Homo sapiens: one gene and its partner. The protein of the gene in region 2 purifies or fractionates together with the protein of the main gene of each other region. This does not show direct contact. Each region holds a gene or a part of one and is shown on either strand. Other genes may lie near its edges.

Evidence for each region. Proteins that work in one complex are often made in the same cells at the same time.
Region 1: the proteins of SLC71A1 (region 2) and ANO6 purify together in Homo sapiens (affinity purification with mass spectrometry; one large-scale study listed by BioGRID and IntAct). This does not show direct contact.

Annotation. Positions count from the first base shown.
Region 1 is NC_000012.12:45,219,095-45,222,745, forward strand, and holds part of ANO6 (anoctamin-6), read left to right. Parts: intron 1-3,651. UniProt on the Homo sapiens protein: Small-conductance calcium-activated nonselective cation (SCAN) channel which acts as a regulator of phospholipid scrambling in platelets and osteoblasts.
Region 2 is NC_000001.11:100,065,446-100,069,096, reverse strand, and holds part of SLC71A1 (hippocampus abundant transcript 1 protein), read right to left. Parts: intron 1,121-3,651; coding exon 902-1,120; intron 625-901; coding exon 511-624; intron 1-510.

The DNA of each region.
Region 1 (3,651 bases), on a different chromosome or scaffold from region 2:
GTACCCAGCCTTAGAATTATTTTGACACGAGTTCCTGGGTATACCATTGGGCGTTATAATGGCCTAATTTGCAAGAGACCTCCCCCTCCCCCCAAAAAAAAACTTTCTAACTGGATGGGGTCCCTGATTATATCATAGAGATGCTTTATGTATGTATATGGAAATGTGCCCTCTAGTAGCTGGAATTTAGAGCCTTTTAAACAGTGGGTTCCTGCTTACTTTTGAAACACTGTATTTTTATTGTACTTTTATTTATTCATTTAGAGACAGGGTCTCCCTCTGTCAGGCTGGAGTGCAGTGACGCAGTCACAGCTCACTGCAGCCTTGACTTCCCAGGCTCAAGCAATTCTCCAACCTTAGCCTCTTGAGTAGCTGGGACCACAGGCCTTGTGACACCATGCCTGGCCAATTTTTTTTTTTTTTTTTTTTTTGGTAGAGACAAGGTCTCACTGTTGCCCAGACTGGTTTCAAACTCCTGAGCTTAAGTGATTATCCTACCTCGGCTTCCCAAAGTGCTGGGATTACAGGTGTGAGCCACCATGCCTGGCTGTTCAGTACTTTATGTCAGTGTTGCCTCCTAGTTTAGAATGAACTGATCTGGAGAATCAAGGATAGTACATCTCACTATGGATGTCTTTTCCTTGTTTGTTTAAGTTACAGCCAGCAGAAATTATTTCCAAAGGCGTGCTTGTGTGGCAACCTGTTGGCATTAGAGCATTTTTGCAATAGGCCACTTATTTCTAAAGCAGAGCCAACAACCAACCACTGAAGCCACATCCAGGCAGTAGTAGTGGGAAATGTGTGGTTTGAAGCCCCTGTTGTGCTGGTGGAGATCACATATTGTTGCAAGCCCCTGGGAGTTAGGTTGTGTGCTACCCTGCCAAGTGTGCAAAAGAGTGTCCTTGGCTGCTTTTCGCCCCCTCATCAGCGGATTAAATTCAGCATCTCTTCTTGTTCATGTAGAATGCTATAGGAACAGCTTTTGTAGCCAGAATGCAGAAATCAGATTAGTATGCTGCTTTATTTTGTTTCTTCAATTCTGTTCTCTGTGGTCAAGCTTTGCTGAAGGAGGAAAAGTGGTTCCAAAAAAGACTATCAGGAACTATTCAGACTGTTCAGATAATGAGGTTTTGTTTGTGGATGGTTGGTTGGTTGCTTTGAGTTCCTAGTCTGTTTATGGTAGTTTACTGTCTGATCCCCATCACTAATGGTCATGTATGTCATTGAGGGGTAGACAGAGGACATGGTCCATTACCTTTGAGAGATAATGATCCAGCTATTGGCTCCCTTTTCAACTGTCACATTTTTACATAGACTTATCTTCCCACACCCACCTCTCTTTCCTTATTACCTACTTCAGGTTTAATCACCTATAAATCTGATACTAGCCCCAGTCTTCCTTCATAAACATTGATTGAGCAATCCTTCTGTGCTAGTTTCAGGATTAGGTGCTGGGTCAGGTGTTGGGAGACTGAAAATGAGTAAGACATACCTGTGTCTTCCAGGAGAAAAGTTCCTTAGAACCAGACTGTGATATTGTGAAATATATAAGGCATTCTTCCAGTTTCTTGGCATGCAACTCCTAAAACTTTTGGAATTTTCAAAGTGGTAAGTGTCTTTTTGTATGCTAATAAGTTGACAGATGGCTGGCAGCCCCTAGGTAGCTTCCTGATGGGGGCTGGTCACTGGAAAGACCAAGGCAGGATTAAAGGTTTGGACTTCCAGCCCCATCTACCAACCTGAAGAGGGGTAAGAGCCAGGCTGAAGGTTAAGCTGATCACCAGTGGCTAATGATTTAATCAATCATGCCTATGTAATAAAGCCTCCATAAGAACCCAAAAATTCTGTGCGCTGCCCTGGCAAATTAATGGAACCCAAAGAGGGTGTTGCAAGAACCTCAATTTGTAGCCGGTGGGTCAGAAACCCAGGCAAAACAACCTGGGGCCTGTGATTGGTGTCGGAAGTGGGGGGGGGCAGCCTTGTAGGACTGAGCCCTCAATCTGAGCTCTGAGGCTTACTGCAGGTGGATAGTATCCGAATTGAGTTGATTTAGAGGACGCCCAGCTGGCGTTCATTGCTGAACAACTACTTGCTTGTCATGTGGGAAGAACTCTTCCCACATCTGGTGATAAACGTATTCTGTGTTGATTGTATTGAGAGTACAGAAGGAGAACCTGAGTTTGGTTTTCTCTGCATCATCAGACAGAGATTTGCAATAAAAGGTACATATAAAACTGAAGGGAGAGACTGGGAGAGAGCTTCACAGAAGAGATTTTTGGGTCAGATGCTGAAAGACTAGGAAAATGTAGTGCAGAGATGGCCGGAGGAGAGTCTGGAGTTCCAAATAGTTGCCTGCTAGGGAAGGCAGGGAGAGGCTATGCCGTGAAGGATCCTCCATACACTTTAAGGATTTTGGGTTTTACTCTGTATGTGATTTGGAGCTCCTGAAGGATGTTAATGAAAAGAGTGATAGGATTGGATTTGCTTTTGGAAAGATCTCCATGGTAGCACGTTCTAAAATGGGTTGGGAAAGGAGACAGTAGAGCTAAGCCTTTCCAGTAGTTGGGGTCAGAAATGCCTGCAGTGGTCATGGAATAGAGAAGAATGGGTCTGACAGCTTTATGAAAGAGGCGCCATCTGTGGGTTCTCAGCTGCTGATTGTTTCCGGCAAGCAGAGAGGAGCCCAGGATGATGGTGGCAGGAGGAGAGAATTTTCTGTTCCAACTAGTCTTTTAATTTTCCCCTCTGACCATTGGCTCAGACCATTCTCCCTCCCCGACTCCTTTTTTTTTTTTTTTTTTTTGGGAGACGTTGTCTTGCTCTGTTGCCCAGGCTGGAGTGCAGTGGCGTGATCTCAGCTCACGGCAAGCTCCGCCTCTTGGATTCACTCCATTCTCCCACCTCAGCCTCCCAAGTAGCTGGGACTACAGGCCCCCGCCACCACACCCAGCTATTTTTTTTGTATTTTTAATAGAGGCGGGGTTTCACCGTGTTAATCAGGATGGTCTCATCTCCTGACCTCGTGATCCGCCTGTCTCAGCCTCCCAAAGTGCTGGAATTACAGGCATGAGCCACCACGCCCGGCCCCCCCACTCCAGCTCTGTTGCCCAGGCTGGAGTGCAATGGCTCAATATCAGCTCACTGCAACCTCCGCCTCCCGGGTTCAAGTTATTCTCCTGCCTCAGCCTCCTAAGTAGCTGGGATTACAGGTGCCCACCACTGTGCCCGGCTAATTTTTGTATTTTTAATAGAAATGGGGTTTCGCCATGTTGGCTAGGCTGGTTTCGAACTCCTGATCTCAGGTGATCCGCCTGCCTCGGCCTCCCAAAGTGCTGAGCAGGCGTGAGCCACCATGCCTGGCCAGACCATTCCCCTTCATAGTAATTTCAGCCTCACCTCCTCTTTTTCTCAGTGGTTCCCTGTGATATTATGACACATATGTTTTTGTCCATGGTTCCTGGCTTATAACTACCATAACTCTTGCTATAATGTTGGGGTGCTTTAGGCCTCAGAAGCAGAAGCAGGCCTCAGAAAACAATCTCCATCTTTGACCTGCCCTATTTTTACCTTTGTCTCTCCAATTTTAGAAACTAAAACTATAATCTTTCCCCATCTTTCTGTGTGAGAACTGCCCATAAAGAAATTCTCCCA
Region 2 (3,651 bases):
ACCAAATAACCCCCATTAGAAATGCATAAGGAACATCAGCCACACAGAATAGGAGGTAAAGTCTAGTAGACCAAATAATATTCTTTTTATTTATTTATTTATTTATTTAATTTTGAGACGGAGTTTCGCTCTTGTTACCCAGGCTGGAGTGAATGGCGCAATCTTGGCTCACTGCAGCCTCCGCCTCCTGGGTTCAAGTGATTCTCCTGCCTCAGCCTCCCAAGTAGCTGGGATTACAGGTGCCCGCCACTACGCCTGGCTAGTTGTTGTATTTTTAGTAAGCATAGGATTTTGCCATGTTGGCCAGGCTGGTCTTGATCTCCTGACCTCAGCTGATCCACCCACCTTGGCCTACCAAAGTGCTGAGATTACAGGCGTGAGCCACTATACCAAGTCCAATGATATTCATTTTTAAAGGCCACTTCTATTACAGTTCTCTCAAGATTAAATATTTTTATTAAAGCACTAGACAATGAAAGAAAAGTCCACCTTAGTGGAAGAGGATTTTACCTGTCTGAGGTATAAAAAAAAGCTGGAATATTGGCCTGCCTCCGGTAGGTAGGAGAGAAACACTGTAATGCAGATCAGCAGCACTATGGAATCTTGGCCGACTTTTTTTAAGGACTAGAACAAGAAAAAGACTGATTGATATAAGGTTTTCTATCAAAACCACTGAACTATTCTTAAGAATACGCAGAGATTCCTTTTGGCAGTGTACTCATGGACAACTAGTTGTCCTTTTTATTTATTTCATATTCCCCAAACTATTCTGAAAAGTATTTCAAAATGTTAAAAGAAAAACCCAAGATGTTTTCCCTAAAGAAATATCCACAACAAAATATTAATGCTGCACTGAATCATGCACTTTTTTATCAAGGAGAAGGAAAAAGTATAAACTTACCGCAAAAGGGTCAGCTTGTTCCCAGGAAATGGGTGCTCCCCAGGATGCTGGCCGCATTTTCTCAGGCAACGACTCTGGCACAGCAACAAGGATAAAACAAATATCTAGCAAAGCTATTGCTGTAGCTAAGACCACCACCAAGCTGTCCCCATATACTCGTCCAAGATAAGCTCCAATTGCAGGACTGGTGACTAAACTTGCAGCAAATGTTGCTGAAACCTGCAATAAATTAAGGATAGACAGAGATTAGTCAGGCTACTTTTTTCCTCAACACCACATAACTCCTTTCATAATCTTGATTTATGTCAGGCCTTCTGTTGCACACCCTCCCTTTTCTCTTCCTACCTGTGCCATTTATCTTTTTTTCTTGTGGGGGCGAGAGTGGGGGAACTGGGTCTTGCTCTGTCGCCCAGGCTGGAGTGCAGTGGTGCCATCACGGCTCACTGTAGTCTTGACCTCTCAGGCTCAAGAGATCTTCCTGCCTGAAGATCTCCTGATGGGGCTACAGGCACACACCACCACGCCCAGCTAATTTTGTTTATTTTTTATAGAGGTGGAAGTCACGCTATGTTGCCTAGGCTAGTCTCGAACTCCTGAGCTCAAGCGATCCTCCCACCTCAGCCTCCCGAAGGGCTGGGAGTACAGGTATGAGACACCAAGCCTGGCCCCACTTTTCTTATACTCTCTCCTTTGGCAGGAAAAGTAAAGAATTAGATTCTTGCCTTAAAAACAGCCTGGACAACATGGAGAAACCCTGTCTGTATCAAAAAAGAAAAAAGAAAAATTAGCTGGGCATGCTGGTGTGCACCTGTAGTCTCAGCTACTTCAGAGGCTGAGGTGGCAGAATTCCTTTGAGCCAGAAAGGCGGAGGTTGCAGTGAGCCATGACAGCACCACTGCACTCCAGCCAGGGTGACAGAGTGAGACCGCATCTCAAAAATAAAATAAAATAAATGATAGCCTCTCAGGACACTGTCTTCAAACTTTCTAAGCCTTGGAGCCCTCTGTTCCAATAAATCCTACTGGCAAATTCATAGGTAAAAGAGATTTTTTTAAGAAGACTGGGTGTGATGGTTCATGCCTGTAATCTCAGCACTTGGGGAGGCCAAGGTGGGAGGACTGCGTGAAGCCAGAAGTTTGTGACCAGCCTGGGCAACACAGCAAGACCCTGCCTCTATTTAAATTTTTTTTTTTTTTTTTTTTTTTTTGAGACGGAGTCTCGCTCTGTCGCCCAGGCTGGAGTGCAGTGGCGCGATCTCGGCTCACTGCAGGCTCCGCCCCCGGGGTTTACGCCATTCTCCTGCCTCAGCCTCCCGAATAGCTGGGACTACAGGCGCCCGCCACCTCGCCCGGCTAATTTTTTGTATTTTTAGTAGAGATGGGGTTTCACCGTGTTAGCCAAGATGGTCTCGATCTCCTGACCTCGTGATCCGCCCGCCTCGGCCTCCCAAAGTGCTGGGATTACAGGCGTGAGCCACCATGCCCGGCCTATTTAAATTTTTTAACTCTTTTAGTTGAGGAAGGGTTGAGAGCCTGGGCACTGTACAAACACCCCTCCTTGACTGCCAGTCATGCTGGTCCTTAGGGGAGGGGTGTCTAATCTTTTGGCTTCCCTGGGCCACGCTGGAAGAACGGTCTTGGGCCACACATAAAATACACTAACAATAGCTGATGAGCTTAAAGAAAAAAAAACTGCATAATGTTTTAAGAAACTTTATGAATTTCTGTTGGGCCATGTGTGCAGCCTGTGGACCATGGGTTGGACAAGCTTGGTTAAGGGCATCTCCATAAACCCTTAAGTGCTCTCTGTGAAAGGAGTCTAAAATCCACTGCTCTAAGGAAATCCAATTTCACTGTGACTTTTCCAATATTAAAATTAAATGAACGTTTATCTTGATACATACTGAAGGGCTAGCTGAAATAAAGCTTAAAGACTTGGAGGTTCCTGTTCTCATGAATAATATGTTAAGCCCTGGAACAAAACTGAGCTTGGTAATCTTTTTAGTTGGCAGGGTTAGGAAGAATGAAATCACAGATAAATTAAGAACATCTCTAAAACTCTGAGGAAGTCTATTTTTTTAAGCCTGGTGAAGATGAAGATTAAAGTTGAAAAGGACACGAGTAGAGCAAACCTGTTAACCGCAGACATTTCTAGCCTACTGGACAACAGCCTACAAATTAGCAGATGTGACAGCAGGAAACACTTCATAAAAATAGCACTCTTAGTCAGGTGAGGTGGCACCTGCCTATAGTCCCAGCTACTCAGGAGGCTGAGGTGGGAGATCACTTGATCCCAAGAGTGAGTCCAGTCTGGGCAACACCCTGTCTGGAAAGGAAAGAGGAAAGGAAAGCAAAGGGAAAAGGAATGGAGAAAGGGGAAAGAAGAGGAGAGGAGAGAAGAGAAGAGGAAAGGAAAGGAGAGGAGGAGAAAGGAAAAGGGGAAAGGGGAAGAGAAAAGGGGAAGGAAAGGGTTAAAAAAGGGAAAAGGCTTAGGGAAAAGGCTTAAGGAAAAGGGGAAAGGGGAAGGGAAAGGAAAAGGAAAGAAAAAGAAAAAAGAAGGGAAAGGGAAAAGGGGAGGGGAAAGGAAAGGGAAAAGGGGAAGGGAAGGGAAGGGAAGGGAAAAGAGAAAAGGAAAGGAAAGGAGAAAGGTGAAAGCGAAAAGGAAAGGGGAAAGTGAAAGTGAAAAGTGGAAAGGGGAGGGGAGGGGAGGGGGAAGAGAAGGGCAAAGGAAAGGAAAGGGGAAGGGAAGGA